Linked DNA regions of Homo sapiens: regions 1, 3, 4, 5 and 6 are each linked to region 2. The links come from fine-mapping of genetic effects on gene expression. A gene starts in region 2. Each other region holds a variant in brackets. All regions are shown on one strand. Distances are between the middles of the regions.

The links.
Region 1: its variant is fine-mapped to the expression of ARHGAP22 in testis (GTEx, PIP 0.93).
Region 3: its variant is fine-mapped to the expression of ARHGAP22 in whole blood (TOPMed, PIP above 0.99).
Region 4: its variant is fine-mapped to the expression of ARHGAP22 in whole blood (INTERVAL, PIP 0.98).
Region 5: its variant is fine-mapped to the expression of ARHGAP22 in whole blood (INTERVAL, PIP above 0.99).
Region 6: its variant is fine-mapped to the expression of ARHGAP22 in whole blood (TOPMed, PIP above 0.99). The same link has a PIP of 0.9 or more in blood mononuclear cells.

Annotation. Positions count from the first base shown.
Region 1 is chr10:48,454,194-48,459,382 of GRCh38, forward strand. It overlaps ARHGAP22 (Rho GTPase activating protein 22), which reads right to left. Exons shown (of 10, transcript NM_021226.4): 6 at 809-941. Among named protein-coding and RNA genes, the nearest start is that of ARHGAP22-IT1, 55 kb to the right of the region's middle. RefSeq lists an enhancer at 1-828. The variant T/C (reference allele first, on the strand shown) is at 3,441.
Region 2 is chr10:48,601,948-48,607,136 of GRCh38, forward strand. ARHGAP22 (Rho GTPase activating protein 22) reads right to left here and starts at 3,126. Exons shown (of 10, transcript NM_021226.4): 1 at 2,816-3,126. The coding sequence starts at 2,849. RefSeq lists an enhancer at 2,547-3,277 and a silencer at 3,134-3,293.
Region 3 is chr10:48,646,771-48,651,959 of GRCh38, forward strand. It overlaps a transcript of ARHGAP22 not described here. Among named protein-coding and RNA genes, the nearest start is that of WDFY4, 36 kb to the right of the region's middle. The variant G/A (reference allele first, on the strand shown) is at 2,438.
Region 4 is chr10:48,527,295-48,532,483 of GRCh38, forward strand. The region is part of intron 3 of ARHGAP22 (Rho GTPase activating protein 22); the gene reads right to left. Among named protein-coding and RNA genes, the nearest start is that of ARHGAP22-IT1, 18 kb to the left of the region's middle. The variant T/C (reference allele first, on the strand shown) is at 2,784.
Region 5 is chr10:48,573,562-48,578,750 of GRCh38, forward strand. All of the region lies in intron 2 of ARHGAP22 (Rho GTPase activating protein 22), which reads right to left. Among named protein-coding and RNA genes, the nearest start is that of ARHGAP22, 29 kb to the right of the region's middle. RefSeq lists enhancers at 967-1,468, 3,839-3,888. The variant G/A (reference allele first, on the strand shown) is at 2,907.
Region 6 is chr10:48,631,505-48,636,693 of GRCh38, forward strand. It overlaps a transcript of ARHGAP22 not described here. Among named protein-coding and RNA genes, the nearest start is that of ARHGAP22, 29 kb to the left of the region's middle. The variant C/T (reference allele first, on the strand shown) is at 3,106.

The DNA of each region.
Region 1 (5,189 bases), 150 kb before region 2:
GCAATGAGGGCCCTGACTGTTCTCTGACTGCGAGGAGGGGTGGGCAAAGAGAAGGGAGGTGGGGGCTACGGCAGCCCAGCCCCAACAGACCAGAGGGCTCCACCACCTCCACCTCCCCTCAAGGAGTGGCCAGGGCCCAGCTGTGACCTCCTGGGAAGCTAACTTGCTTCCAAGGAGCTGGTGTGAGGGGTGAGCCTCTACAGGGCCCGTGGAGGAATGTCAGGGCCAGCACTCAGCTCACTTATCAAGACACAAATATTTGCCAGATAGTGAGCCCTCATCTCCCACATGGCCGCAGGGAAGGCAAACAGTCCTTCCCTGGCCCTGAGCCACCTGGGGCTGCAGACCAGCACCTGCACGGGTGGGGACGGGAGGGCTGGCTCATCTGTCCTGGGAGCCAGCTCAAATTCTTTTGGGAAGGAAGCAAGATATAAATAAAAGATGTCCTGGTTTCTGAGCCTGTGACGGGCCTGAGTGGCCTGAGTCGGGTGTGGGGAGTGTGAGCACCTACTGGTGTGACAGCCAGAGCTGGGCACACCGGACCCACCCCTCCCAGGGACCAAGGCCGCAGACAGGTATGGCTCCAGACAGCAGGATTCCCCAGCCCTCCCCGACCTGAGCAGGATGCCCTGGCCCCTCCCCCACCCAAGCAGGATGCTCCAGGCCCCCACCACACCCCCAACACAGCAGGCCTCCACAGGATCCATGTGCCATGAAAATTCATGAAAAGTCAGAGTCTGTGTCCTGAGTCTACAGGCTGCCACCCAGCCAGCCCATCTCCCAGGAGCTATCCCCAGGAGCCACTGACCTCCCCCTCGTCCTTGGTGAGCAGCTGGGCGCAGCTGAGGAAGTCCTCGTACCTGGCGAAGGGGACCACGGGCTCGGGGAGCTCCCGCAGGTACAGCTTCAGCAGGGAGGCCACCGTGTGCACGTCTGTTGTGCTGTGGGGGGGAAGAGGACAGGTGTGTGAGGCCTGGGATGCCAGGGGACTTCAGGGGTGACTGGTACGCCCTGACGCCAAGGGGCAGCCTCTGGTCTCAGGTGCATTCTTGGGCGCACTGGGGGCTGCATCTGCGGCCAGCTGCCCTGGTCAAGGAAAGGCCAGTGCTGCTTCTGGGAGCAGTGGATAGAGCTGGGGCAGGGACGACTAAGTATCCATGGCCAGGAGCTCCAGCTCAGGGACCACCCATCATGCCTAGGCACCTGCTCAGAATCCCTGAGTCTCATGTCTGTGTCAGTCCGTCCAGAACCTGTCCTGCGTAGACTGCGTAGGACTCCAGGAACTGTGAAGCCACAGGGCCCTGCAGGGCACAGCTGCTCCACCCTAGCAGCTGCCCTGGGCCAGAGGAATCAAGTGTGATGCAGGTCAGGTTGCACAGGGGAGGGCCCTGGGACATGGGCCAGGGAGCCCCTTCCACAGGCCTGGTGGCCATCCCAAGGTCCCCTGCAAGACGATGTGGGAGCTGCCTGCTCTGCGGTAGGAACAGCTATCCTGCAGGCCCTCCATAGGTGCTGCCAACCCCCAGCCCGAGCTTGCCCTCTCCACTGCACTTGACTTTGGCTGGAGTGGGAGGAGCTGCATCAAAGGCGCCCACAATGCAGGGCTGCTGGCTCCTTGTTGGGGAGCAGGTATCCGGGGACCAACAGCAGGAGCAGGTCGGAGGTCAGGCCCTTTCCTCTCTTCCTGTCCACAGTGGTGACACCTAGGCTTCTAAGCTCATCACCCCCTCTCCAGTGCCCCAGGAGTCCACTCCAGGCCTCAGTCTCCCGCTCTGGCTCGGAGCTGCCAAGGCAGAAGTAGACCAGTTGTGGATGGTGGTGGCAATGGGCCTGGCATAGTCCTTCCCTGGGTCCTGTGTGGGGTCTGCAGTTCAGGTCCTAAACGAGAGCCTTGGCATCTCCTCCGAGCTTGCGTTCCAAGCCGTATATGGGCCCCAGGTTGTTCATCTGCTTGTCTAGAACCATGGACTTAAACCCTGGGCTGCATTTCCCTCAGGAAAGATGAGACGGGGCCAGGAGACTGTGGCTGTGCCATTATGCTATCACCTGATCCCGGATGAATCCCAGGCTAGGCTCACTGAGATAAATACCTTCTGGCCCTGACATTTGGGATTCTGGGGTTCCATGTATCCATATGCACCCCAAATCCATATACCTGGGGCCCCTCCTTGCCTGAGGCTCAGTGACTCTTGGTCTGGCTGGATCCAGGCAGCCCCCATCCCACCCTCCTTCCATCTCCAGCCAGGCATGCTGCTATCACACCCTCCTCGGCCTTCTCCCGGGCCATGTTCCTGGCCAACTGCCCTGGGTACCCAGGCTTGAGCCCAGCGGCCCCTTCCCCACTGGGAGCCCGTGGCTTCAGTGGCAGCCTGAGTGGAGCGCAAGAGACTGGGGGAAGGGCAGGAGGCAGGGAAGTGTGGTTGGCAGCCAGCCCGTATGTCTTCCCCTTTTCTGCAGCTGGGGGGATGGGAGCATTTCTGCCCTGGGTGAGTGGACACAGAGCCACCCCTCCTCTGCAGACCTGCCCGGCTGCATCCCTGCCCCGCAGGGTCCTGCTGCTTGGCCCTGCCTGACCCCCTATCCGCTCAGTACCTGAGCTCTTACTTCCTTTCCTCGTCCCTCCCTCCCTCCCTCCCTCCTTCCCCACTGCAGTGCCTTTCCTCCAACAGCTGTCACCAGGCCTTTTCTTGAGACTTTTCCCTAAACTGCTGTCCCCTTCCCCCCTCCAACAAGCACCCAAGGAGAACTCTGTACAGCCCGTGGTCCTGTGGGCGCCTCCCCAGCCTGTGGGCCTCCCAGCATGCGGCGACATTAGCGCAGGCGGAGGGTGGGGGCAGGGGTGGGGCAGAAAGGGCAGCAGCTGGTCAGGGGACGAGGTGCCTGCCCTGGGGACAAAGAGGCCCTGGTGGTCAGTGCAGCCCGCAGCAAGGTGACCCTCCATCTGCAGGTTCCTCGTCACCTCTCTGTACCCAGGGAACCCCCCGCCCACGCCAACACCGGCATCTATGCAGAACACGCCATGCCTCCAGCCTGGTCCTGACTCGCCTCACTCCCCTAGAGTCCGTTTCTCATCACCCATCCCCACTTCCTCGACCTGCCCCCCAGCCGGGCCGCCTGCTTCACCCCACCTGGGTGTCCGCAGGGCTCCTCCCTGAGCAGCCCAGCCCTGCCATCTGCAGCACCCTGGGAGGTTCCCTACCACTAGGCCCGGGACTGGTGTCCCTGGTGTTTACTTGTTATCTGTCAAGACCCACCCCCCTTAGAATTTCTAATGCATGTGGGTGCCCCTCCACCCCTAGGCCTCCCAGTGCTCCCTCCCTCAAAGGATAGCAGCTGAGGGAGTAAGGAGAGCCTGGCGGCCAGGAGTCCATGCAGCCCTAGGCTCCGGCCCACAGGAGGCTGTCCTCAGAGCTCAGCAGCAGGGTGGCAACCCGGGAGAC[T/C]GACAGCCCAGTGCCCAGGGGACACTGTGCTGGGAAGGGGCAAGTATGGGACAGCTCCAGGCACTGAGGCTTCCAGGCCTGGTGAGGCTTTAGCAGAAGAGAAGCCCAGGACCTGGGGCTAAAGGGGACCTTCTTATAGAGATGAGCAGGAAAGTGAGGAGGGGGCTTCCTGCGGAAGGGGCCAGGACAGAAGCCAACACCCCAGCAGGCAGGCAGGCTATGGCCTTGGGGAGAGAGCTCCATCCCGGGACCCTCTGTTGGAAGTGGGTGAGGAGGAGACCCTCTGTTGGGGGTGGGTAGGGAGGGGGGACCTTCTGTTGGGGTTGGGTGGGAAGGGGGGCCTCCCTCAGGGGTGGGTGGGGAGGGCCCCTCTGTGGGTACAGCTGCAGAGCCAGAGGAGCTGCCATGGAAATGGCAGAAAGTGGGAAGGATGGCCTCAGATACCCCAGGAGGAGTTTCTAAAGGGAGAGGAAACCAAAGCCCAGGGCCACCGTGGCAGTATGGGGGTCACTGCTGAGATGGGGGTGGAGGGACAAGGCCAACATGCCCACCATGGAGATGGCCCTCCTGACACAATTCCAGAAGCAGGGTAGAAGCAGCCAGAGAGGGAGAAGGCAGACAGGGGAGGGCCTCCAAGACATAGGGAAGGCTGCCCCAGGCTGCTGGGAGGCCGAGAGTCAGGTCTGCATGGAACCCACCCTAGGGTGCCCAGCTGCCTCTCAAGGGGGCTTCAGCAGGCAGGCCAGGTGGAGAAAGGAGGCTGAGCATGCCAGGAACCACACCTTGGGAGAGCAGGTGTGCCCAGGTGGAGACCCCCCCAGCAGGATGGGAGAAGCTTGGCAGTGTGGGTGAGGCGCAGACGGCCTGTGCCACTCCAGGGAGCCCCAGCAGAGTTTGAGTAGGGGAGTGGCAAGGTCTGATCTGTGTCTGCAGAAGCCCCTCAGGTAGCATCAGGCACTAGGGCAGAGCATCTGATCCTGGGGAGCTTCCAAAAGTCTCGGCTCCCAGGCCTTACCCAGGTGACATTATTTGAAGCAATCTGCAACCCTAACGCTGAGACACAGGATGGAAGAGGCCTGGCTGGCTGAGGTTCAGAATGGACGACAAGCTCACTGAGCGTCAACACTGGGATGGAGCTTCACAAAGCTCCAGAGGAAGGGTCCCCCGTACCTCCCTGGGTGGAGCACCGCTAGGGAACAGTGGTCAGTCCTGGACTCCACATCTAAGGAGAGGAGCTGACACCCTCCCCTGGCTGCAGTGACGGGCCTGGGAAAGAGCTGAGGGGCTGAGTGTTCTGCCCCCAGAGGAGAAGCCCTGGGAGGCCAGGGCTGCCTGCAGGTCCTGGTGGGCCCATCCTGGGGCAGATCCAAGAAGACAGGGCATAAGCCCCATGGAGGGTAGTTTTTCCTGATGTAGAGAGAACTCTATGAAAAAACTGCCCCATAATGGGTGGGGGCACTGTCAGGGGAAACAGAATCCCCAAACGGCCCTAGGCTGGGGGTATAGTTGGCTCCACCCAGGGGCATCCAGGGCCTGGGTAAGCCCCCATGATGGGTAGGATGGACATGGCCCCGGCCCCAGAGCAGATGGAGGAGACTCGCTCTCCTGTCCCCAGAACCCAAAAGGAGGGGAGCCGAGCTGCTGTGCCATCTTGCCATTGATAGAGCCTGGGGGTAGGTCACCGGAGGAAGCACGGCCAAGAGACAGACCCCGCAGAAGGCCTGGGGTCCGGATGCAGCTGCGCCTGGT
Region 2 (5,189 bases):
CTTCAGATAGTGTTGGGTTAGAGAGAAGGCAGAGGCCTTAGCATTGGACAGACAAATTTAGATCCCACATTTATTGGCTGGGCGACCATGATTCTTCTACATCTGTCAAAATGGTAACAATGATATCACATTATAGTGTAGTCATGAGAATTAAATGAGGTACAACAAAAGTGCCTGGAGCATGGGTGCACAATAAATGTTGGTTTACTTTCTTGTGGGACAATCACAAGAATAAGGCCATTGAAGGTACTTCATCATATTAATAGAGCTTTCTCTCCCCACCCCCAAAGTATTGACCAGGCTCTGAACATTCATCAAGGCTCCTGAGACATTGACACTCCTGCTACAGGAGATGGTTAAAGCTCCTATAACTTGGCCCATCAGTCTGATGATTTCCTTTAAAAGAAGGAGCCTCCTTAATAGCATCAACAATTTTATTTTGAAATATTGCAAACAAAGACAGAAATTCTAAAAGGAAAATATATACGAGTTAAAAACAGGTACATCTAGAAAAAAAACCCACTCTAATATAAAAATAAAGGGCAAGCAACAAATTGGGAAAATATTTGCAACATATGAGTCAGTGAAAGATGAGGCCAAATTTCCTAAGTACCGGGCCAGCTTGGGTAGAGACAGTGCTCCAGCCACCCAGGCAAATGCTTTCTCCTCTATCCAGCTATTCATCCACTCACTCAAAAAACACAGGTTGAGTGTCCACCAGGTACCTGGCATTGGGGGTATAATGATGTCCCCGAACAGAAATGGTTCCTGCTTTCACGAAGCTCATGGAGCAATGCAAGTGACAGATATTCACCAATCAGTCACACTCAGGAGTATACAACTGCAACCTATGGTAAATACCATAAAGAAAAGGAGAGATGGAGCAGAGGATCCAGCCTGGACTGGGGTGTGTGGGAAGACTTCCCTGGCTGGCAACACTTGAACTATACTATAACTGGAGGGTGAATAGGAATTAAGGTGTGTGTGTATGTTTGTATGCATGAACGCATGTGCACACACATACAGGCATGCATGTGCGCACATGTGAATGTGGGAGGCATTTCAGGGGAAAGAACGATGTGCAAAAGCCCTATGGTGGAAGCCTCATGGAACACTGAGGACTGGAAGAGGGCTGTATGGCTGGCCTATACGCACTAGATGCCAGTAGCACCCCTCAGTTGGAATAACCAAAAATACTCCAAACAATGCCAAATGTTCTCTAGTGGGGCAAATTGCTCCTGGTTGAGAACCATTGACTTAAAACAAACATTTATGAGAAATCCTGGATTTCAAAGACAGGCTGCCTGTAAGCCCCTTTGCTGAAGCACTGGTCTCTTACTAGCACTGTCCAATAGAAATATAAAAAATATAATATGAGTCACATATGTACTTGTAAATGTTCTAGTAGCTATAGTAAAAGAATGTAAAACAGGTAAAATTAGTTTTAATAATAGATTTTATTTAACCCAATATATCCAAAATACTGTCATTTCAGTAAAATAATTATTAATGAGATATTGTACATTCTTTTTTTGTACTAAATCATCAAAATTTGGTGTGTCTTTTTCTCAATTTGGACTAGTGACATGCCAAGTGCTTAGTAGCCACATGTGGCCAGTGGCCAGCTCATTACACAGGAGTGGGAGGGTGGAACTAAGCTCTCGCAGAGGTATCTGGCTTGTCCTATCCCTTGGGTCATCACTAGACTTGCCCCCTCCTCAGCAGAGCCATGCAAGTTCCTCCTTTGCCCATTGGGGTACACAGGGTTCAGCCCATGCGAAAGCACCCCACAGAGGGGTCCTGACGTCTGTGGAACACACTGGAAGGCTGGTCCCATCCAGGAAAATCATCCAAGTGCTTGCAGTGTGCTAATAAGATGGGTGTGTTCCCTGTGAATCCACAGGAGGCTGGAGGCCCCCCGCTGCAAACACCTGGTGAGACACAAACTGTTTCCAAGCTCCCAGGCAAATGCTCCATCCACCTCCAAAGACCCATCCTCCACTTCATTGTTTACAAAAGGAGCTCAGCCCTCCCAGATACTGGCCACCTGAAAAGACACATTCTATTTTTGTAAAAGACAGATGTTCTCATTCAAAATGACACTTTCCGTGGCTAAGAAGTTGTTGTCCATGGAGATGCTGTCTCTAGCCCCATACAGTGGCCAAGTCTTCAGGTCACTGTGCTGGGTCGCTGGCTGGACACAGGCTGGCTAGCCCAGTCCTGGACTCTCCTGACCCCCATCTCTTGCTGGTCTGAGTCTGCTCCCGCATCCACCCGTCCTGCCCCCAGACCCTGCAGCTTTCTGAGTGTTCTGGCAGGAAAGCCTGCCTGCCCCTGGCCTGCTTGAGGAAATACTGTCTGCAAAGCAGCGGGAACGAAGACCCTCGCTTGCACCCAGCTGTCTCTAGAAGCCAGGGCATGGCCTTCCCTGGTAAGGGGTGCTTCTGTGTTGGCCACAGGGCAAATCTTGGGCATTTCCTTTTTAGTAAAGAAGCAAAGTTTCCTTAAAGTTGCCACCAGGTCACCTGGAGCGACCGAGGGCCTCTGTAAAATGTGGAATGTGGGGCGAAGTGTGCACACCCACTGGGGCACTAAGCCGGCCACCGCCCTTTTGCAACTTCAGGTCGTGTCCCCACCCAGCCCAGGAGTTTCACGAGGAAGGGCACTTCCTCAGGAGGATGCTCACTATTCAGCGGCAATGGTCCCAGAACGCCCGCCCCATGTGACACATGGCGTGACGGCTGGCCAAGTGTCCGCGCACGTTTGCCAAGAGGCACATGCGGTGCCCAGAGAAACCCCAGAAAGTTGGACTTACCCCTCCTGGCCTGCCTGATCTTTGGGCTCAGCATGTTCTTGCAGCCGTCCGGCCAGCCCCGCAGGGCCGTTCATGCTGTCATCCACTTGCTTTTGCTCGTCCTCGCGCCTAGTCGCCCCTCATGTCCTGCTCGTTCGGGGCCCCGTGGCCGCTGGCGTCACCCGTCAGGCTCCCTCGGCTACCTCTCCTGGCTCCGGACGGACGGCTCGCCTTGGACTACATAAACCTCGATGCATTATTTATCCATCCCAGAATTAATTCCCATCCAAGCGGACCATTAAAGCCTCAGTAATCACTGCTGATCAATCACTGGACCAGGGCGGGGCAGTCCCTCCGCCTGGCCTGGGCGCACGCGTGGCTGTCCAAGCTGAGCGCGGGGGCGGGGCGGGGCCGAGAGGGGCGGGGCCAGCCAGAGACGCGGGGCGCGGTCCTGGCCCGGGAGAGGGTACTGGGGTTCCGGCCATCCTTTGCTGAGGCTGGAAGAAATGCGCCTTTCAGCCGCCGCCTGGGAGCCGCACTCCCTGCCAAGCCCGGGTGGGATAGCGCTTTGGTGAGAAGGTAGCCGAGACCCCCCCCCCACCCCAGAGCCCAATCCACGGGGACCCGCTTATGAGCTCACTGTTTTACGTGTTGAAAGTCAGGTGTGTCTGGGAAGGAGCAAGCAGCCCGGCAATGTAAACTCCTCAGGAGACTCCCAACAGGAAGATGCCTGTTAGGGATACTATTTATGCCTCTTTAGTAAGGTGACAGGAATAAGAGGGCAGGAAGCACTTAACTCAGGGCTCTTCATAGGAAGATCTGAATTGAATAGTGAATCTCTGCTAATTGCCATGTTTCTGTTTGATGCTGGCATAATTTTAAAGGGTGTATACTGGGGCTTTGTGAGGAGCGGAATCCAGCCTCAAGATGCTAAAAATTACCCAAGGAATGCAATCATAACAATAGCTATCATTTATTAGGCACCTACTATGTGTCAGGCACTGAGGCTGGTGCTTTACATTCAATATCTCATTTAACTCTCAAACTCCTGAAGCAGGTGCTATATATATAGCGTTTCAAATCTGGAAAATAAGGCACAGCAAGGTTGAATCACCTGCCCAAAGTCATACAGTACCGAGCAGCAGGGCGGGCACCAGAACCCAGGGCTGTGTCTACAGCTCCTGCTGCTCTGTGATGCCAGCCTCTCCACCCTATTCCCATCACTGCATGGTAACAGCTCCTGGCTTGAGCCCCCGATGAACTTGCTGAACGGTGACCTGCCTCTGTGCCCCTGATAATCACTCCGTGTATCCTCTTAGGCATCTGAGCTTGGGTCTGGCTATTTGGGCCTGAGAACTGTGTGACCCTTTCAGTAGCTGGTAAAGAGGGATTTGAACAATGCCCTCCCCTGCTCAGATGGCCATAGCCTCCATCTGACCCTCCACACTCCCTCGAGTGCCCCATGTCCACAGATCCCCAAGTGTCCTATTGGTATGTAATCAACTTTAGCAGCTGTAGAGGGAGAGAGCCCACCAGGAGATCACTGTGGCAGTCCTCCCTAGGGAACAGTGTGCCCTATGGAGAGGGGAGGACTGCAGAGTAAGAAGAAAGACTCACCAGGATGTGGTGAGCCACATGGCCAAGCTGGTGGGAGAAGGTAGAGTCCATGGACACAAAGCTGTCTTACTCAGCATCAAGTCACTTGTTCTGGTCTTCAGCTACTCCTCAGAGGGATGAATGAGTACCTTGGCATAACATTCCAGGTTCTTTCATGGTAGCATCCATGGACTCCTCTCTGACCTATCTCTTGCCGATGCTCTATACAACCATATGCACATACAGCGCCTGCTCCTGTGTGCCCCAGTGACTTTGCACATGCCTTGCTCCTGTGTGTTCCTGTTCTTGCATGTGCAGCCCCTGCTCTCCTGTGCCTCTGTGTTTTTGCACATGTAGCTGTGTCTTTGCACGTGCAGTTCCCTCTCTCTGGAATGCCCTTCCTCACATTGCCTTGTCCTCTTTGGGCAATTCCCCAATGAAATTCTCCTGATTCCACCAGCAGAATGAGCCACTAAGCACTTCCCCTGGGCCCTTATCTATGTCCCTGTACTGCCCCTCTTGTACGCCCTCCCTGAGCCCCAGGCTGACTCAGGCCAGAAGCCTCACAGGAAACTCTGGCTTCATGGGCAGATCCAAGAAACACCACTGAATGACAGAACTGACCTCCTTTTCCTTTAAGGCCAGGTACAAGCCCTGGTTGGGACAGGGGCCACCCATGAGGAGTGGGGAGAATATCAAGCTAGAAAATCTCATGTCGACACCAGGGTCACAGGGCAAGTCCTGTGGCTTGTGACAATGTCTTGAGCAATCAGGAAGCCATTTGTGAGTAATGCAGCCT
Region 3 (5,189 bases), 45 kb after region 2:
CCATACAACTTCTAGAAACAAACACAGGAGAAAGTGTTTGTGATGTTGGGTTAGGTGGACTCTTAGATACCATATCAAAAGCATGATTCATAAAAGAAAAGATAGAAAAACTGAACTTCGACAAAATTAAGATTTTTTGCACTTTAAAATTTAAGTACACCATTAAGAAAATTAAAAGTCAAGCCACAGACTAGGAGAAAATTTAGGCAAATTATATATCTGATAATAGATTTGTATCTAGAACATGTAAACATTCTTACCACTCTAATAAGACAGACAACCTGATTTAAAAATGGGCAAAAAATTTAAATAGGCATGTTACCAAAGAAGACATACAAACAGGCTGGGCTTGGTGGTTTACACTTGTAATCCCAACACTTTCGCAGGCTGAGAGGGGTGGATCACCTAAAGTCAGGAGTTTGAGACCAGCCTGGCCAACATGGTGAAACCCTGTCTCTACTAAAAAGACAATAACTAGCTGTGCGTGGTGGTGGGTGCCTGTAATCCCAGCTACTCAGGAGGCTGAGGCAGGAGAATCGCTTGAACCGGGAGGCAGAGGTTGCAATGAGCCGAGATCACGCCATTGCACTCCAGTCTGGGCGACAAGAGCAAAACTCAGTATCAAAAAATATAAAAATGGAAATAAAAAGGCATATGAATAGTTAATAAGCACAGGAAAGTACATTCAACATCATTAATGGTTAAGCAAATGCAAATCAAATCCCCAATAAAATACCACTTTACACCCGCTAGGATAGCTATAATAAAACAATAGCAAGTGTTGGTGAGGATGTGGAAACATTGGGACCCTTATGTATGAGGTGGGATTGTATGACGGTGGGAATGTAAAATGGTACAGAGATTTCAGAAAACATTTTGACAGTTTCTTAAAAATTAAAAAATAAACCTACCATACGACCCAGCAAGAGAAATGAAAGCCGTGTGTTCACAGAAGCATATGCATGTGAATGCTCATAACAGCATCATTCGTAATAATCCCAATCCAAAAACAACCCAAAAGTCCATCAACGGGTGAGCGGAGAAACACAATGTGCATCCCTACAAGGGAGTATTACTCAGCTACAAAGGAGCACACTGATCACTGATTCACACGAGAACATGAATGACCCTCAAAACGTTATGCTACATGAAAGAAGCCCAATGCAAAACACTACACAGTTTATGCTTCCGTTTATAGAAAATGTCCAGAAAAGGCACATTTATGAAGACAAAAAGCAGATCAATGGTTTCCTTAGGTTGGGGTTGGGAGGAAGGGTTAGTTGCAGATGGGCTTGAGGGAATTTTTTGAGGTGCCGGAAATGCCCTAAAACTGGATTGTGATGATGGTTTTACAACTCCATGAATGTAGTTAAAATAATTTAGCTGTGAACCTCGAATGGGTGAATTTTATTGCATGTAACTTACATATCAATAAGGCTGTTGAAATACATAGAATATGATAATAACCAATGCCATGAAGAAAAAAAGATGGGAAAGGAGTATGGGAAGGCAGGGCAGGGTTTCAATTACTGCAGTCATTAAAATCTCCAGGCCCCCAGGATGTGGTGGGACTGCACTTCCTGGGCCCCTTGCAGTTGATTGGGGCAGTGATTAGTGTGGGACAGAGTTGTGAGCAGAGTGTGATGTGTGTCCCTTCCCGGCTGAGGATTTAACTGCTGACGTGAGACCATTCACAAGCTCACTGTTTCTCGGGCCTCTGGTCTGGCAGCATCAGCCTGGGTCTTTAAGTCACTATGATTAACAGGGCAGGATCCACCCCTCAACTCACCCAGGTGACCCGGTGGTTGTGTAACTCATCCCATTCAGACTCACACAGGTGGTCAGAGAAAGCCTTAATAAAAGCTTTGGGTAAAAGTCTGAAAGAGGTGAGTCTGTAGGCCAGGCAGCTGTCCTGGGGGGAAAATGGTCCGGAGAGTGGGCAGATCATGCAAACATCAGAGCAGCAGGGAGGCCGGCACTGCTGGTGCAGAGCAGGCGCAGCGGGGTGGGGGAGCGTGGGGTGCTTGGCAGCAGATCCTACGATGGGCAAGGCGGGTGCCAGAGGAGGGCAGGCAGCCGACAGAGGTAAGTGGCCTGGGCATCCATATGGATGTGTTGAGCAACATGGATGCCCATGGATGTGACAGTGCTGATTGGATTTAGGTTGAAAGAGTCTTGCTCTGTGCAGTATGGAGAGATGGAAGGGCCAAGGGTGGGAAGAAGAAGAGCAATGGGGAGGATCCTTTGCAAAGATCCAGGTGAGAGCCGACCTCTCGCCCCGCTGCCATGCAATTATTCCTATGAACATTCTCATCAGATCAGTCCTGTGCTTATAACCATCAATAGCTCCCTATGCCTCACGAGAACAAGTCCAAGTTTCTGAATATGGCATCCACCTACCATTCCTCCCTTATTACCCCATTCCAACTGCTTCAGC[G/A]CCCCTCTCTCTAAGTCCCCTATTCTCTCAGGACACAGTCATGCCCCCCTACCTGGGTTCTCACAATCCCCTTACATCTCTGCCAGCAGTGGGGGAGAGAGTCTGCTCTGGGAAAGGCCAAGGTGAGGACAACCACAGAGTCAGGGAGGCGTGGGAGAGGGTTTCGAAGGAGCCTCCCTACCCCAGGCTGCTCCCAGCCTTGGTCCCAGCGTGCAGGTCAGGGATTTGGGGACTTGAAGGAGTGGTTGGATTCAGAGATGCCTTCTCCTTCTCTTTGGACACTCTGGCTGGGTATGGGCAGAGGCCACCGTCTTTCTCTCCACTGTGATCCCGAGGCACAGTGGCTTCTTGGCATGGGGAGTGCCAGGAGGGTCAGACAGGGAGAAGCCAGCAGTCTTGGGAGACAACCAGGCAGACCAGTGGTCTGAAGTTTGGGAGCTGGTGAGAAAAGAGGCTGCAGCTAGTCCTGCTGGCAGGAGAGTTCCCTAGGAGGAGCTGAGGCCCACAGTGATGGAGCTGAGGGTGCTGCCCACTGCTGGGTGAGACTTTTAGCACAGAACTCACCAAGTGAGAGGCCAAGAGGCTCACCACCAGCTCCTGCTGGAGGGAAAGTGCTGGTAGGTTCTCGATGTGGCAAGATTGTGGACAAAGTGAAGAAATGAAGCATAGCAGTACAATTGAACGCATAAGGACCTTTCATTTGCCCTCAATCCTTGAAAATGACAGTTAAAAGCAAACTTAAGTTTCTCAATAATCTCCATTAGCTGAGAAAGACGGAGGGAGGGAGGGAGGGAGAGAGAGAGAAAGAGAGAGAGAGAGGGAGAGAGAGAGAGAGACCAGGAGGTGGCAGGTGGAGAGAAGAAAGATAAACACACAGAGGTGCTAACCGAGAGACCAAGGATGGGGAGGGGAAGCCCCCTCCCCCTGTGCTGGAGACTCTTTTTTTTTTTTTTTTTTTTTTCTGCAGCCTTTCACGAAATGGCATTGCCAGTCCATTTTTAGAGTTGTCAAAGTGTTTGAGATTAGGTAATCATTTACAAATTAATCCAGTCTCAAAAGGAATGAATGTGGATGAAACTTGGAAAAATTATGCTAAGTGAAAGAAGCCAGACACGAGGCTTCATAAAAGGATACATATTGCATGAGTCCATTTACATGACAAATCCAGAGTTGGAAAATCCATGGAGGCAGAACACAGATTGATGTTTGCATGGGGTGGAGAAGAGGGAGCAACCTCTTAATAGGTACAAGGTGATGGAAAAATTTTGGAATTAAATGGAGCTGGTGGTTGCACAACATCATGAATGTATGAATTGCCACTGACTTTTACACTTCAAAATGGTTAAATTCATGTTATATACATTTCATCTTGATAAAGACATTAATTCAATCAAATTCATTAAGTTCAGGTATGTCATGCAGTATGTCCTCTGTCCCTTTCTCAAAGGATTTGCACCTATGCTATGAATCTGGGGAAGAATTTATTTCATCATAGAAATCTGGTGGCTGGAACCTCCTACAAAAGCAAGTGACTGTTCCTTCCAAGCCAGATAATGCAATAAACCTAGCACAGGGAAAATAATACCTGGAGATATTAGGTATTAGGCTTGAACAGTTAAAGGTTAATCTCAGCTGCTCCCCCACCCCCTATTTTCTCCTGTGGAAAGTGAGATCCAGGGAAGTTGACAGTGTGAGAAGTGTCTGCAGCACGAGGCCGGCCCAGGGGTCCTGGCTTCTAGCCCACTCCGTTCTTCATGAACACAGAGCTTTACTCCTCACCCCATGAATATCTACTCAGACCACAGAAAAGGGGCTCTGTGGAGTCTGAGCCCACCCTGGGCTTGGTCCACTATATCCTGAACCTGGTAGCATATTACATTACATCACATCACCTGGGACTTTAAAAATATGCTGATATCTTGGATTCATCCAAGACCAATTAAACCTGCATCTCTGGAGGGGGAGCCTGGGAATTTTTAAAAGCACCTTGGGTGATTTTAATGTGGAGGTTGAGGTCCATGACTGCATTTCACCCACTAGCTTCTAGAATTTCCAATCTTTACCAGTCCTGGAGGGGCTCAGGCAACATCATCTCATAACTGAGCCCATCAGGTCATGCATATGACCTGACTAGCAACTGCCAACCATCACCTACACAGCCCATGCAGCCCAGCACCTGCACAACCCATCCAATCATCACCTGCATAGTCCACCCAGCCAGCACCTGCACAATCCACCCAGTCAGCACCTGCACAACAAGCCGAATCCTCACCTGCACAGCTCACCCAGTCAGCACCTGCACAATCCACCCAATCATCACCTGCATAGTCTACCCAGCCAGCACCTGCACAACCCACCCAATCAGCACCTGTACAACCCATCCAAATCATCACTTACACAGCCCACCCAACCATCACCTGCACAATCCACCCAATCCTCACCTGCACAGCCCACCCAGCGAGCACCTGCCTGTGACCCAAACAAACAGTCATCCCACTTGGTCTAACAATTATCTCCCAGGCACTTTACTGAGGGACCCAAACAGACAGTCACAGCCATCCCATTTGGTCTAATAGTTACCTCCCAGACACTTTAGTGAGGGTTACTGAGATGTCCTCACTATTTCTCTACTAGCCCCTTGGCTGGATCCTTTCCAAGCAGAGATGCAGAGTAGCCTTCAGCTGCACACAGCGTTCCCCTGTGAAGGACTTGCCTACTGCCCCAGCGGTCCTTGGACATAGGAGTCCTTACA
Region 4 (5,189 bases), 75 kb before region 2:
AGGTGAATAGATGGATGGATGGGTGGATGGTTGGTTGAATGGAGGTGTGGATGGGTGAATACATGAATGGATGGGTGGATGGATCGTTGATTGGATGTAGGTGTGGATAGATGAATAGATGAATGGATGGGTGGATGGATGGTTGCATGGAGGTGTGGATAGGTGAATAGATGGATGGATGGGTGGATGGATGGTTGGTTGGATGGAGGTGTGGATAGGTCAACAGAATGATGGATGGGTGGAGGGATGGTTGAATGGATGTGTTCCATAGGTGAACAGAAGGAAGGATGATGGATGGTTTAATGGTTAAATAAACAGAAGAATGGGTAGTTTTCCCTAGTTAGGCCTAAAGTCATGGGCTGCGACTGGCAAAGCACCCACTTAGCATAGAATTTGTCTGAAAAATCAAATTTTCTGAACATAGCTCTGCCACCCAAATTGATGATGACCCCAAACTAACTAGAATTTAGCCAAAACATCAGGATCACATATGCTGCAAGGCTCTAGCTGTGCTCAAGCCGCCTTGCTCCAGAAGAAGGGCCAGAGGTGGGAGCCTCTAGGACATGTTTCCCAGCAGGAAGGCCAGCCTCCAGCCCACCACCAGGCACAGGGCAGAAGAGATAGAACCAGGGGGTGGATATCCAGTGGGCACAATGGGCTCTGGGAGGAGGCTGGACACCAGCTTTGAGGACAAAGTTTCTATGGGATAGAGGCTGCCCCATTCATCCAGAGCTCTACTTCCTGCCACTTTACTCCATTTCTCTGGGAGACCCACAGTTGGGTGGTGAGAATGTCAAGCTGTTTCTAGGGGGTGCTGCTGCTGCTGGGATCCTGAAGCCTGTGCAGCCTGAGCCCCTGGTCCCAGATATGCCCCAGGTCATTCAAGGATTTTCTTAGGAGACTCAGGACCTGCCCTCCATAGTTCCAATGCAGGAGTCTGGATTGCTCCTCCCCAGAATATCCAAGGCACCCTCACAGCACTATCTCAGGTGTGAGCTCAGCCCTGGGTAGCTCAGAGGAAGGGAATAAATGGGAATGTACCATCTTAGCCACAAGCATAGCTTAGGGAGCCTATAATGATCATTCTTTCCTTCACTCATGTACAAATGATGACTGAACACAGCTCAATGCCTGACACAAGGCCCAATGTGGGGCGGGGGATAGGAGGTTGCCCCGGGAGCTGTAGGGGACAGAAAGCCAGTCTGCCGAGGGTGGTAAAGAAAACTCTGCAGAGGAGAATGCTTTGAGGTGGGACCTGAGCTGCAAGGAGGGGTCCAGCACCTTAGGGGACAGCACAGGAATGGTCCCTGATATGGTGTAGACGTGTGTCCCCTCCAAGTCTCATGTTGAAGTATGACCTCCAGTGTTGGAGGTGGGCCTAGTGGGAGGTATTTGGGTCATGGGGCTGATTCTTTATGAATGGCCTGGTGCCATCCCTGTGGCAATAAGTGAGTTCTCACTCTGGTAGTTCACATGAGGGCTGGTTGTTTAAAAGAGTATGAGATCTCCTCCTTTTTCTCTCTCTCTCTCTCTGTCTGTTACTTTCTTGCCATGGGACACATATGCTCCCATTTGCCTTCTGCCATGATTGTAAACTTCCTGAGGCCTCCCCAGAAGCCAAGCAGATGTTAGTGCTATGCTTGTACAGCCCGCAGAACTTTGAGCCAAAATAAACCTCTTTTCCTTATAAATGACCCAGTCTCAGGTATTCCTTTATAGCAATTTGCATGGACTAACACAGTCCTCCAATGGGTGCAGTAGTATCCCATTAAGAACTTGCTCTTTACTTGGGTCAGGGGAGTCACAACATGGCATTTAGGGTAGAAGACATGATGCAGCCTGTGATTCTGACTGGCTAGCCTGGTGGCTAGAGCGAGATAGGGACTGGAAGGGGGAGACTGGAGCAGAGAAAAAGCAAAGATGCAAAAGGCATAAGCCAGGTGAGAGATGTGGGCCGAACACAGGTTGGAGGAGTTGGAGACCAGGCAGGGCAATGTGTTAGCTCAGGGGCCCCAGCTAACCACACCTTCCAGTTCTTGCATCTTATGTAATCCCCTCCCTCGAATCTAGGCTGCCCTATGAGCTGCTTTAATTGACAGAAGGTAGCAGAAGTGACTCTGGACCAATTCTGGGTCTAAGTCCTAAGAAAACTTGGCAGCTTCTGCTTTTCCCTGTCGTCAGGGAAAGCACCCCCTTGTAAACAGTGGAATTGTCCTGAGACTGTTGTGCTGCAAGAACCCCAACCTAGCAATGTGGAGAGGCCAAATGGAGAACTGAGGTCCAAGCCAGCAACCACACTGACTTCCAGCTGTGTGAGTGAGGCTGTCCTGGAAGTGGATTCTCCAAGTGATACCATGTGGAGCAGAGAGAAGCTGTCCCCACCAAGCCATGGCCACACTGCAGAACAGTGAGCAAATAAAATGTGTTTTGTTTTTAGCATGGTACTGGTATAAAAATAGGCATATAGACGATTGGAACAGAATAGAGAACCCAAAAATAAAGCCAAATACTTACAGTCAATTGATCTTCAACAAAACAAACAAAACATAAAAGTAGGGAAAGAACACCCTATTCAACAAATGGTGCTGTGATAATTGGTAAGCCACACATAGAAGAATGAAACTGGATCCTCATCTCTCAACTTATATAAAAATCAACTTGGCTGGGCGCGGTGGCTCACGCCTGTAATCCCAGCACTTTGGGAGGCCAACGTGGGCAGATCATCTGAGGTCAAGAGTTCGAGACCAGCTTTGCTAACATGGTGAAACCGCATCTCTACTAAA[T/C]ATACAAAAATTAGCCAGGCATGGTGGTGGTCATCTGTATTCCCAGCTACTTGGGAGGCTGAGGCAGGAGAATTGCTTGAACCCAGGAGGCGGAGGTTTCAGTGAGCCAAGATTGCACCACTGCACTCCAACCTGGGAGGCAGAGTGAGACTCCATTGCAAAAAAAAAAAAAAAAAAAAAAAAATCAACTCAAGATGGATCAAAGACTTAAACCTAAGACCTGAAACTGTAAAAATTCTAGAAGATAACATTGGAAAAACCCTTTTAGACATTGGCTTAGGCAAAGACTTCATGACCAAAAACCCAAAAGCAAATGCAACAAAAACAAAGATAAATAGATGGGACTTAATTAAACTAAAATGCTTCTGTATAGCAAAAGAAACAATCAGCAGAGCAAACAGACAACCCACAGAGTGGGAGAAAATCTTTGTGATCTTTACATCTGACAAAGGACTAACATCCAGAATCTAAAAAGAACTCAAACAAATCAACAAGAAGAAAACAAACAATCCCATCAAAAAATGGGCTAAGGACACGAACAAACAATTCTCAAAAGAAGATATACAAATGGCCAACAAGCATATAGAAAAATGCTCAACATCACTAATGATCAGGGAAATGCAAATCAAAACCACAACGCGATACCACCTTACTCTCACAAGAATGGCCATAATAAAAAAATAAAAATAAAATAGATGTTGGCGTGGATGTGGTGAAAAGCAAACACCTCTACACTGCTGGTGGGAATGGAAACTAATACAAAACCACTATGGAAAACAGTGTGGGGATTCCTTAAAGAACTAAAAGTAAAACTACCATTTGATTCAACAATCCCACTACTGGCTATCTACCCAGAGGAAAGTAAGTCATTATATGAAAAAGATACTTGCACACGCATGTTTATAGCAGCGCAATTCGCTATTACAAAAATATAGAACCAGCCCAAATTCCCATAAATCAAAGAGTGGATAAAGAAAATGTAGTATATAAATACCATGGAATACTTCTTAGCCACAAAAAGGAACGAAATAATGGCATTTGCAGCAACTTAGATGGGACTGGAGACCATTATTCTAAGTGAAGTAACTCAGGAATGGAAAAGCAAACATCGTATGTTCTCACTCATAATTGGGAGCTAAGTTATGGGATGCAAAGGCATAAGAATGATACAATGGACTTTGGGGAATTGGGGGAAAGGGTGGCAGGAGGCTGAGGGATAAAAGACTACACATTGGGTACAATTTGCACTGCTGAGGTGATGGGTGCACCAAAATCTCAGAAATCACCACTAAAGGACTTATTCATGTAATAAACACCACATGTTCCCCCAAAACCTATTGAAATACATTTTTTTAAAAAAGGAAAATATGTGTTGTTTTAAGTCATTAAACTTTGGAGTAGTCTGTTAGGCAGTTACAGATAGCTGAAACATAGGAAGTGATGCAAAATCCTTATGGCTAGCACTGCCTGGCCCTGACAATGTGCCAGGCTAAGAGCTTGACATGTGCACGTTCACTTAGAATTCAGAGCAATCCTATGCATTCGATGTCATCATTATTTCCACTTGCAAGAGGAGGGCACCGAAGTACAGAGAAGTGAGGGCACCGAAGTACAGAGAAGTGAAGTCATTTGCACAAGGTCACAACAGCTAATTAGTGGTTAAGCTCAGATTGGAACCCAGCCCATCTTGCTTTCTAGCCTGTGATCTTAACAATTCTATGATAAATGTTTTTTGGGGAAAAGGAATGGGACTCGATGGTGAATAAGATGGCCTGTGGGACAAAGGCACACATAACTGTAGTTGAGACTTCCAGTTAAAAAAGACAAGCCCTGTGGAGTGCTGGATTGAGACCGCGGGTTATTGCTCCTAGCTTTTCAGAATAATGTCTGTCTCCTGCCAGCCCTGGCCTCTGGTAGAGGGAGCTTGTTGAAGAAGGGCGTGATGTAGACACTTTGTAGACAGCTTATCACAAAACATACCTTTGATTGGCACTAGTAACTCACGGGCATTATTTTGTTTAATTTTCACAATAGCCTGTAAGGGTGATATGTCATCAGATCCAATCTACAGGTGAGGATATGGACACCCGCCCAGGTTATGCGAGCTCTCAAGATCACACAGCTGGTGGGTAGAGGGTAGAGCCTGTCCTCCAATCTGGGCAGTCTGAACACTGCTGGTCACCTTCTTAACAACCACTCACTGACTTCTGCCTCTTGGTGGTGAGGGTCTCATCTGGGCCTGCGTCCCTGCCCCCACCCCCTTCTCCCATCATATTTCTGATCTATATTAGGAGTTTGGCTAAAATTCAGTGTGCACACACACTGTATGTCCACATAACACAGACCCACAGACATTGGAATTGGAAGGTTCTCTTTTAACACAACCTCCTCATTTTTCACAAGCAA
Region 5 (5,189 bases), 28 kb before region 2:
GCAATCATTGTTTTCTAGATCTGCAACTTCCTTTTTATAATTCATATTAGATGCCTTCGCATGCTTCTTGAAGGTCTTTCATTTCAGAACCCATTCTAAGAATTGTAATAGTCTTATCTCTGAGTGTTTAGGCAGCATTGACAACACTATCAACCACAGCAACTTCCATTTGTCCAATGCTTAGTGAAGCCACAGCCTCAAAGGACCACACCAAAAGTAGGAACAAGAGGGCTTCAATGATCTTCCCAAATCTATAGCTAGTAGGTGGTATAAATGGGACTTGAAGCCAGGTATTCTGGTTCCAAATATTATGGTTTTTTCCATTATAGTATGCAAGCTTTCATTCTACCTTTTTGAGCCCCACATTCTCTACCAGTACAGTGGAAATTGATTGTGCCTGGCCTTGTGGAGATGCTGTGTGAATGTTTATTGAACAAGTGTTTATTGAGCTTCTACTATGTGTCAGACATTGTTCTGGATACTGAGACACAGAGATAAACAAGATAGACAAAAACCTCACCTTGTTGGGCTTACAGTCTGATAGGGAAGGCAGTCAATAAGCTCTTTGCCAATTCTCAGGCACTTTACAAAAGCAATAAATTATTTTTCCATTGAGGATCTAATACAAATATGGGTCACACTATGCACTCATTCATTCCATTTATTTTTCTCATTTATTCATTCATTCATTCAATTATTCAAGTAAGCACCCAATATTACTGGATACCAATTATGTGTCAAGTACCGCTAGGTGATAGGAAAAGAGAAATAATAAGACAGATTGAAGCCCCACCTGAATGAGGTTTATGATATAGAATGGAGAACAGAAATTAAATTGAGGAAGTGTTATAAATAACAACAGCAATATCAAAACAGTAATGCAATAATAATAGCAGTGACATCCTCTTGGCTGGTTTGAGTAACAATTTACAGCTTATGAAGGATGCACAGTTAGGGCTTGCTAAGTCAACTTGAGCTGGGTGGAGGTTATGAGGTCCAGAAGTGAAGGGCATCTGACACAGGGGCGGTCCTGTGAGCTGTGAGCACAAGATGAGCTCCGACACCTGATGGCATCTTCATCGTACCCCCAGGTGGTGCTGAGATGAGGGCCATGGAAGATAGAGCCAGCCAAAGGTGTGAGGTTTTTGTGGGCAGACATTAATGGCACGGCAGGGGGTTGTCCTAGCAGTCTCACTGAACTTGTGTCAGCTTTCAGGCGCTATCTGAGAGTGAGTACCTGTTAGTCTTGGCCTGATGTCAGTCCTTCAGTTTCCTCATTTGAGAAATGGAGACAACCCAGGCATCTACTCCAGGTCAAGGACTCAGGGAAGGAGCGTGATATGGTTTGGCTCTGTGTCTCCATCCAAATCTCATGTTTAATTGTAATCCCCAGTGTTGGAGGTGGGGCCTGGCGGAAGGTATTTGGATCATGGGGGCGGTTTCTCTTGAGTGGTTAGCACCATCTTCTTGGTGCTGTCCTCAAAATAGAGTGAATTCTCACGAAATCTGGTGGTTTAAAAGTGTGTGTGGCACCTCCCTGCTCTCTCTTTTGCTCCTGCTCTGGCCATGTGACATGACTGCTCCCTCTTTGCCTTCCGCCATGATTCTAAGTTTCCTGAGGCATCTCCAGAAGCTGAGCAGAGGTCAGCATCATGCTTCCTGTACAGCATGCAGAACAATGAGCCAATTAAACCTCTTTAAAAAAAAATTATCCAGTCTCAGGTATTTCTTTATAGCAATGGGAGAATGGAGTAACAGAGTTCATGAAAGCAACATTTTATTTTTTGTTTTTGTTTTTGACGTGCAAGTTTGGTAAACAATGGGGTGGGAAATGAAGATTCCCTGCAGGCTGAAATATTCCTGTGACTTTCAAGTTATGGGATAGGATGGCCTCTCTTTCTTCCCCTGAGGTTTCCTCTTTCTTAAAGATTTCTGGTTTCCGACTGTCCAATATTAATGTTCCACTCCTAGAAGTGCATGTGCTTTCCCATCCATCTTGACTTTCTCCCCACCAGTCTCAAGCTTTTACTCAATCACATCAAACTTTAAATCAATCTTCTATGGCTCCTTATTGCTGAGCTTCCCTCACTTATTCTCCTGGAAAAAAAATAAAACATACAACAGAAACCTAGCCTGCTCTCAAAGTGATTTTTAAATTGCCTCTTCTAGAACATAATGTTGCATCAGCCATGGCAGGTAGGTGGGAGGGGGAAGTGTGGATTCCAAACTCCACCTGCCATGTTCCCTCCCCTGCTTCTTCCAAGGCCCCCAGCCCTTGTTCCAGCATGGTGAGGATTTTCTTGGCCTCAGCTGATATTAGAACACCAGCCCCATCTAAGTGGCCTTTCTGCTTCCAGCCTGGTCCTGGTCAGCCCCTATCTGTGCTGCTGCAGGATGACTCTCCTCTTGGGGCTCTGATGGCCAAGTATAAGCAACCCACAACCTTCACTGACCCCTATCGCAGCCCACGAAGTGAGGACCTAGATCCTGGGTGTGGCAGTGAAGCCCCTTTACAGGAGTCCTCTAGTCCCACATCTGCATTTTGTGTTCCTGCCTGTAGGATGAGCATCCTATGCCCTACGTCAGAGACTATGGGCTCCCCACTGGGTGTGGACTGCCAGACACATAGCATCCATGGACCTCCCACACATTCCTAGGTTCATTCTAAACACATCTTCCAAGAACCTCCAATATGCCAGGGCCTCTTCAGAGGCCAGCGTGGGGCTCAGTGGCCCTTTCTAGAAGAGGGAGCCCCTGGCCTGGCCTCCCCATTCTCCTCCTGGTCATCCAAAGAACCTCTAGCACTGTGGCCCTGCTGCATTCCGTTTTTTGGTTATAGTTTTTCTTTTCTTGTTTAAATTTTTAAAATACTTTAAAATATGGACTTACATGAAGATAGTCTCAAC[G/A]TGAGAAATTACAATAACACAGAAAAAATGCAAGCTGACCCTGTTACCAACTCACTCCCCTGCCTCACATCCCTGCCCCATGGCTCTGACTTGTCTTATTTGTATGCTCAAAATCTCAAAAATAAATTATTTCCATCTTATTTCACTTTTTTTTTACAATGAAAGTTTACACTTGCACATAGTTTGAAGAATCAAGAGTTCTACACGGCTTATCATGAGGCAGCAAATTCTTCCCCTGCCATTGCCTGAATCTGTCACCACGTTCTATGGTCTCAGATGAGGTTTCTTTTCTATCTTTCTCCTTTTTTTAAGATATTTATTTCTAATTAGTATGCTTATGTTACTCCTTTTTGATTTTACATTTTAGTCATTGTCTGTGGAATTCCTAGCATGGGCAGTGAGATTTTGCTTTCTGCCCCTTCTCCACTCACCCATCCCTCCCCACACCGCCACCCACCGCCACCCAACCACACACCTTCCCAAATCTCCATGGTAATTTTGGTTATCTCAGTTAGTATTTAGTGTTTATACTCCCATCCTGGGGAGTTTATTTCAAGCATTTCTCTAAAGACTCTTTTTCCTTCATTTCTCTCTTCTCTTTTTCTAAAACTCCTTCTATTCGGACATTGGGTTGTCTCTCTTATTGTCCTCTTCTTCCTAGAAGTGTCAAGTTTTCATCCAACCCTTCTTTGGAGTTTTTTATTCATGATATCTTATTTCTGACTTCTGGGGATCGGTTCCTCCTCTGACTCTTCCGTATTTAGAGATTCTCTCTGAGGATATTACAGTAGTTTTGTATAACAGTTTTCTTCCCCCTGCACAGTATCTGCTGCCTGCAACTTGCTTTTTGTTTTCTTCCTCTTTTTGTCTTGGTTCCTCAAATGAGAGTGTTTCCTCAAATGTCTGCTGAACCAGGCCTATCACTCCCACTTGAGAATGGTTCTCTATGGAGCTGACTGGGTGGCGTCGGAGGATGGGGAGGGCATACACAGGAGGGTCCACCTCCGCCATTTTACTGGAGAACCTCTGGAGAAATTTACTGGAGAAAATTCATCAGTTTCCTTCCTGGGGGCTACTCCTGACTGCTGGGGCTTGGAAACCAAATGTGGATAGAGACTGGGGCCTAAGGAACTGGTCTGCACACTGATGTTCACCCAACCTTCCTGTTCTCTAAGATATTCCACCAAGAAAGGGCCAGAGTCCCCATTATAAAGGGCTCCCTTTTATTCTCAGAGAATACATACAACTCCAGTCTTACAGCTGAGTCGGGGCGGGCAGTCACCTCTTGGCACTGGATTGCTCAGAAAATCTGAGATCTAACTGCTCTTTTTTGGTTTTTTTTTTTTTTTTTTTTTTTTTTTTGGAGACAGAGTCTCGCTCTGCTGCCCAGGCTGAAGTGCAGTAGCGCTTATCTTGTCTCAACCTCTACCTCCCAGGTTCAAGCAAGTCTCCTGTCTCAGCCTCCCGAGTAGCTGGGATTACAGGCATGTGCCAGCACACCCGGCTAATTTTTGTATTTTTAGTAGAAACGGGGTTTCACCATGTTGGCTAGGCTGGTCTCGAACTCCTGACCTCAAATGATCTGCCTGCCTTGGCCTCCCAAAGTGCTGGGACTAGAGGCGTGAGCCACTGCGCCTGGCCCTAACTGCTTTTTTTTAAGTTAACCTTCACCCAGTGCTCCTGTCCTGAGCTCCTTTTTTGCCCTCATTTCCAGAGATATCTAGTCCTGCCAAGCCCCAAGTCTTTGAGGGGTTTTGTTTTGCAAACCAGACAGCTTCCATGCTCTCCTTTGTGCTGGTTTGGGATTTAGCTGTCTTGGATCAGCTAAATAAATCAGCAGCCTCTCCCTCATCTGTTTTCCTGCATCCAGAATGCTTTCTCCCCTCATGTTCTTTCCATCTAGTTGTGCTTGTGCCTTTAAAAACATCCTCTAGTGCTGTATCATGAAGTTTTGTGATGTGGAGGAGCCAAATGTGACTTTTAAATGTCACCCTTAACTGGAAGTTTGAATTTGAGTTTTGGTTTTCTCATTAACTACAGAAGTATTATGCAGTGTATGTGTGTGTGTGTGTGTGTGTGTGTGTGTCTGTGTGTGTGTGTTTGATCTTCGCTCTCTCATGCCTGCACACTCTCCTCAATGTCATTTTGTTATTAACTTGTCTTTTTTGCTTTAGCATTATTGACAGTGATTGGGTCTCTGATTTCATTTTTTTGAAAAAGTTTTTTTTTTTAAAGAGAAACAATGAGTGTTCTTTGTTTATGTCTTCCTCAAAGCTATGGCAT
Region 6 (5,189 bases), 30 kb after region 2:
ATTTCTCCTTGGGATATCAATTATACTTCTTAAAAATATTTTCTTGTTGCAGTAGATTTTGCAATATATATTTACAGCTAATCTGAGTCCACTCTCAAATAACACTACTACTTAAAAAATAGTACAGGTTCCTTATATCAGTATTCCCAGTTCCTCCATCCTGTTCCTTATAATATTACTGACATTCACTTTGGTTATCTACGTGTTATAATCACCCTACATATTGTTGCTATTGTTACTTGGACAAACAGTTACCTGTTAGATCCATTAAGCATGAGAAAAATGAAGACTTTGTTTTACTTTCATTTATTCCTTCTCTGATGCTCTTTCTTTATGTAGATCTGAGTTTCTCACCCATCATTTTCTTTCTCTCTTTTAACATTTCTTGTAGGACAAGCAATGAATACTCTTGGTTTTTGTTTGTCTGGGAAAGTCTTTATTTAGTCTCACTTTTTTTTACAATGAAAATTATTTTTCTATTTCAATACTTTTGGGGTACAGGTGGTTTTGGTTACATGGATGAATTCTATAGTGGGGAATTCTGAGATTTCAGTGCACCTGTCACTCGAGCAGTGTACACTGTACCCAATATGTAGTCTTTGGTCCCTCAACCTCCTCCCAACCTTCCCCACGAGTCCTCAAAGTCCATTATATAATTCTTACGCCTTTGCATCCTCATAACTTAGCTCCCACTTACAAGTGAGAACATATGATATTTGCTTTTCCATTCCTGAGTTACTTCACTTAGAATAATGGCCTCCAGCTCCATCCAAGTTGCTGCAAAAGACATTATTTCATTCCTTTCTATTAGCCTTCACTTTTGAAGAAAAATTCCAGTAGTTATGCAATCCTATGTTGGTAGGGAGTTTTATTGCAGCAGTTTTAATGTACAAACTATTCAACATATTTTTTTTTCAACAGTTGAAATATTTCCCTTCACTCTCCACTTGCTTGCATGACTTCTGTTGTGAAGTCTGATATAATTCCTATCCTTGTTCTTCTAAAGGAAAGGTGATCCCCATACCCCTGGCTTCTTTCAAGATTTTCTCTGTCTTTTGTTTTCTGCATTTTGAATGTGAGACACCTAAGATGTGTATATTTTTTGTTTTTATCCTGCTTAGGTCTGTGGTTTGTTTTCTGTCACTGCCTGGAGTTGGCCAACTCCAAGTTTAGAGTGCACACAGGTCTTCACAAGACCAGCCTCACTTCCAACACCAACTGCAAATTGGGGGGTGTTCCCAAAACCACCCAGGCTAGGAGCTGTGCCGTCTTTAATATTTGCTGTGTCTGCAGATGCCAGAGCGAAATCATTGATTTTAAGTTTGCACAGATTTTACCTTGTTGTAAGGATGAGAGTGAAAATGTCTAAGCTTTTCACATGTCAAAGATGAAACCAGAAGCCAGAGTCTTTCCATTTTCATCACTACTGCACAACGCTGACTATTCTTTTCCTTCATCTACCCCTGGAAGATCCTGAGTCACCTGCCAGAGGACATCACCTGCCACACGGAGGACATCAGTGGACAGTTCCCTCAGGCCTTTCCATTGGATGATATGAGAAGAGCATGAGCTCCAGAAGGTAAGAGTTTTTGCCAATTATGTTGCCTGCTGTATTCCAGTGCCTAGAGCAGTGCCTGGCACAACTCATGTTTGCTGGGTGACTGAATAAATTATCAACCCTTAGGAAACTTTTGAGATCATTTCCCAGGCCTGTCCACCTTTAATGGCCCCAGTCAGCTCTCATTTCTGCAGACAATCTACCTTCCTCTGAGACTCCCAGGTCTGAGGTTTGCAGTGACTGCATGCTGGAGAAGTAAAACTGGGAGAAAGCTCCAAATGTAGGGTTCCTGTGTCCAGAGTCTCCATCATATCACTTGGTTTTCAAAAAATTCCCAAAGGAAACAATTCTCAGCCAGAGATTAACAGTGGCATCTGATTGTTTGTCTGGAAGGGAGTTCCCACTTATTCAGGGTTTACCCTGTGCCTTTCCTTGAACTCTTTTCTTTTAATTAGACATGTAATCCTTATTACAGTCTTGTGAGATATGGCCTATTGTGGTCTCACTTTTACAATGAGGAAATGAAGCAGAGAGATTATATCACTTGAGTAAGGGCATAGAGTAAGCAGGTGGTAGAACCTGGATCCACACCCAGGCCTGGCTTTCTCTAGACTGTTTTTACATTTTGTGGGAAAATGATGCCAGCAGCAGGGAGGGAGGGCTGGCTTTCCCTGTGGACTTTCCACAAGAAAATCCCTGTTGACATCCATCTGCAGAAGGAGATGGGCAGGTTAATAGAGACAGGATCATTCCACGGGGCTAAGAGGAGGAGGGAGCAGAGGGCTGGGCATGGGAGGAGGGAGAGCCTTTCCTAACTGAATGCTGGGCCAAGCTGGCTGCGGGATGCCCTGACTCCTGGAAATCTCTGGGGCAGGTGTCTGAGAGTTGACACCATGGGCATCTATGCCCTATGTTCTCCCTCACCTTCTTCCTGGCCACCAGGATGCTGCTTCCTCCCACGCTTGTTTCTATGATAACTGGCAGGAAGTGTTATCTGCTAGCCAGCTCACCTGTTGAGAGAAGCCAGTTTGCACTAGTAGCTCAGTAGTATCATGGGTAGCTGAATGGGTACTTTCAGATTTGGGTGGCGGATTTGATGGGAGCAGCCAAAAGGTGCCATCAATGTCCCTAAAAGCAGAGGTACTGCTGTGAGTGAGCACTAAAGATGGGTCAGCTCAGATCTGGGTTGAGTCCTGTCTGCCACTAACTAGCTGTGAGCTTTTGGCAAGTCAGTAAACTTCAGATCTTCTGCTTCCTCATCTAGCCAACAGGGAAAAGTGCTCTGCCCCCACAGAGCTGGGCCATAGGAGAGGATAAGCTGCTGGGTGCAGAGGGCGGTGAGCCTGCACTGTGGTTTGCCCATTTCACAACCATTCCCAGAGTCAAATCATTTCTCCCAGATGTGCAGAAACAGAAACCATTGTAGGAAACTGGGTCTCTAAGAAGAGCCGCTGACTCAGCCCTTATTTGGTTCTGTGGCTGGGGGTGGGTGAGCCTGGGCTTCCGCTTGGCTCCCTAGAGGGTAGTGTGGCTGGCAGGGCATCTGT[C/T]TAGACACTCTCTGAGGCTCTGCCCAGCCTGTTCTTTGGAATAGACTCTCCTCTGCTTCTCAGGGCTGACAGCTCTGAGCCCAGGAAAGCAAGAGGGCTGAATTGTGTCCCCCGACTCCAGTTCATGATGAAGCCTAACCCCCACCGCCCCATACAGAAAGTGGCTGTATTTGGAGATAGGGCCTTTAAATATCAAAGTTAAAATGAGTGATTAAGTTAAAATGAGGTCATTAGGGTGGGCCCTAGTCCAATATGACTAGAGTTCTTATAAGCAGAGGAGATAAGGACACAGATACCAACTGTGTGAAGACACAGGAAGAAGGTGATATTTACAAGCCAAGGAGAGAGGAGAAAGAAGCTTGCTAACACATTGATCTTAGACTTCCAGCCTCCAGAATGGGAAAAAATACATGTATGTTGTGAAAGCCCTGGGGCCCGAGGTGCTTTGTCATGGCAGCCCGAGCAGACTCATGTACCTGCCCTCCCTCTTCCTCAGTGTGAACAAGGGAATTCCAGCACCCATGGGAGGCTCTTGGAGGCTAGGCTCCTTCTGGGTCCACCGTGAATGAAGCACTTCACCTTGTTTCTGGGCCTCTGTCTCTTGTTGCCCCCACCCCCACTTCTGCACTGGGCCTGGTGTTTCCCTGGACCCCGACTCCCTGTCTCCTCAGGCATGACTAGTTTCATACTCCTCCAAGGTTGGTAAGAGAAAAATGCCTGGGGTTTAGGTTATAGCTTGAAGCACAGCTTTGGGTGCTCCGTAACTTGTCCCAGCCCCTTGGCCAGCTCCAAGTTCAGCCACAGCTGTGGTGAAACGTCCCCTCTTAGGTGAGCCCACTGATGGCTTCCCGCTCCAGGCTCTCAGCCCTCGGCTTTCTCTGAAGCCACAGGGACCCTAAGCCCTGGGCAAACAAATGCAGTCCAGAAGGGCTGGGTGTCCACACCCCTGGGGTTGCCCTCAGCCAAGGGAGAAAGGGGGCCGGGTAACCCCCACCCTCTCCCCTTCCAGGCTTATGGCAGGTGAGTCTGCACTCTTCCCAGAGTCCCTGTGGAAGTGAGTCTTGGGACAGCAGCAACCTTCATTATGCCCCTCACACTGGCCTTCCCTCCTTCCTGGTGTCACTCTTTGCCCCATCAGTCCTGCTTCCTGGCATCACCTCCCAAATAAACCACCTGCACCCAAGCCCTTGTCTTAGGCTCTGCTATTGGACAACATAAACTTAGACTACTTCCTGGCTGGGGAAGCAGGATGGAAGGACTGCACTTTTGAGCTTCAGTTTTCTCCTCTGTAAAATGGGAACATTAATATCTTGCAAGCTGGCTACAGGAATTAAATGACATCACCCCTGTGGATATTGAAGAGAGTTGTAAACCGTGCAAGGTGATCTCAATGTTGTTATTTATTATTATTTTTAGTTTGGTGGTAGCATCAGGTCCTTACTCTCTCTCTCTTTTCATTAAAGAAAGAAGAAGGAAAATCTCCATCTTCAGACTCATTTCCCAGGGGTCCTGTGCTGCCAGGTGCAGGTGAACATCCTGGAGAGGCTTGGGGGTTAAGGGGTTAATGACATGGCTGCTCCTTCTTCCTCTGCCCTGCACAGCTTCAGCATTTCTCTGGTGGCTGTCGATAAAGGCATGTTAGCTGTGGGGACACTGCATGAAGGAGACATTCAGGGTGTCTGGGTCTTTCCAGCCCAGCCCTGCATCCATGCTGTCTGTGTGCCTGTGTCCCATGCTTGGTGCTTGTGCAGGGAGACTGGGGTGAGCAGGATGGAGGCCTTAGAGCTTGTGGTATGGCCCTGGTCCTCTTCCAGGAATGTCTGCTTGAGTCTGCCCACTGGGCTGCTCCTGCCCAGGCTCCAAGAGCCAACAGGGATTCTCCCTGCTCTGAGACCCTGCCCTGAATCCATGGGTTGCATCGGGGTCCTCCTGTTTCTTGCTGCTCCTTGTACCACCTGCACCACAGCCCTGCCCTTTTGCAGACCACGATCTCCTAGAGAGGAGGGGATATATCTTTACACGTGTTATGTGTGTCCAAGCTTTAGAGCCATGACTGCTGGCAAACAGTACCAGCTCAAGACCCA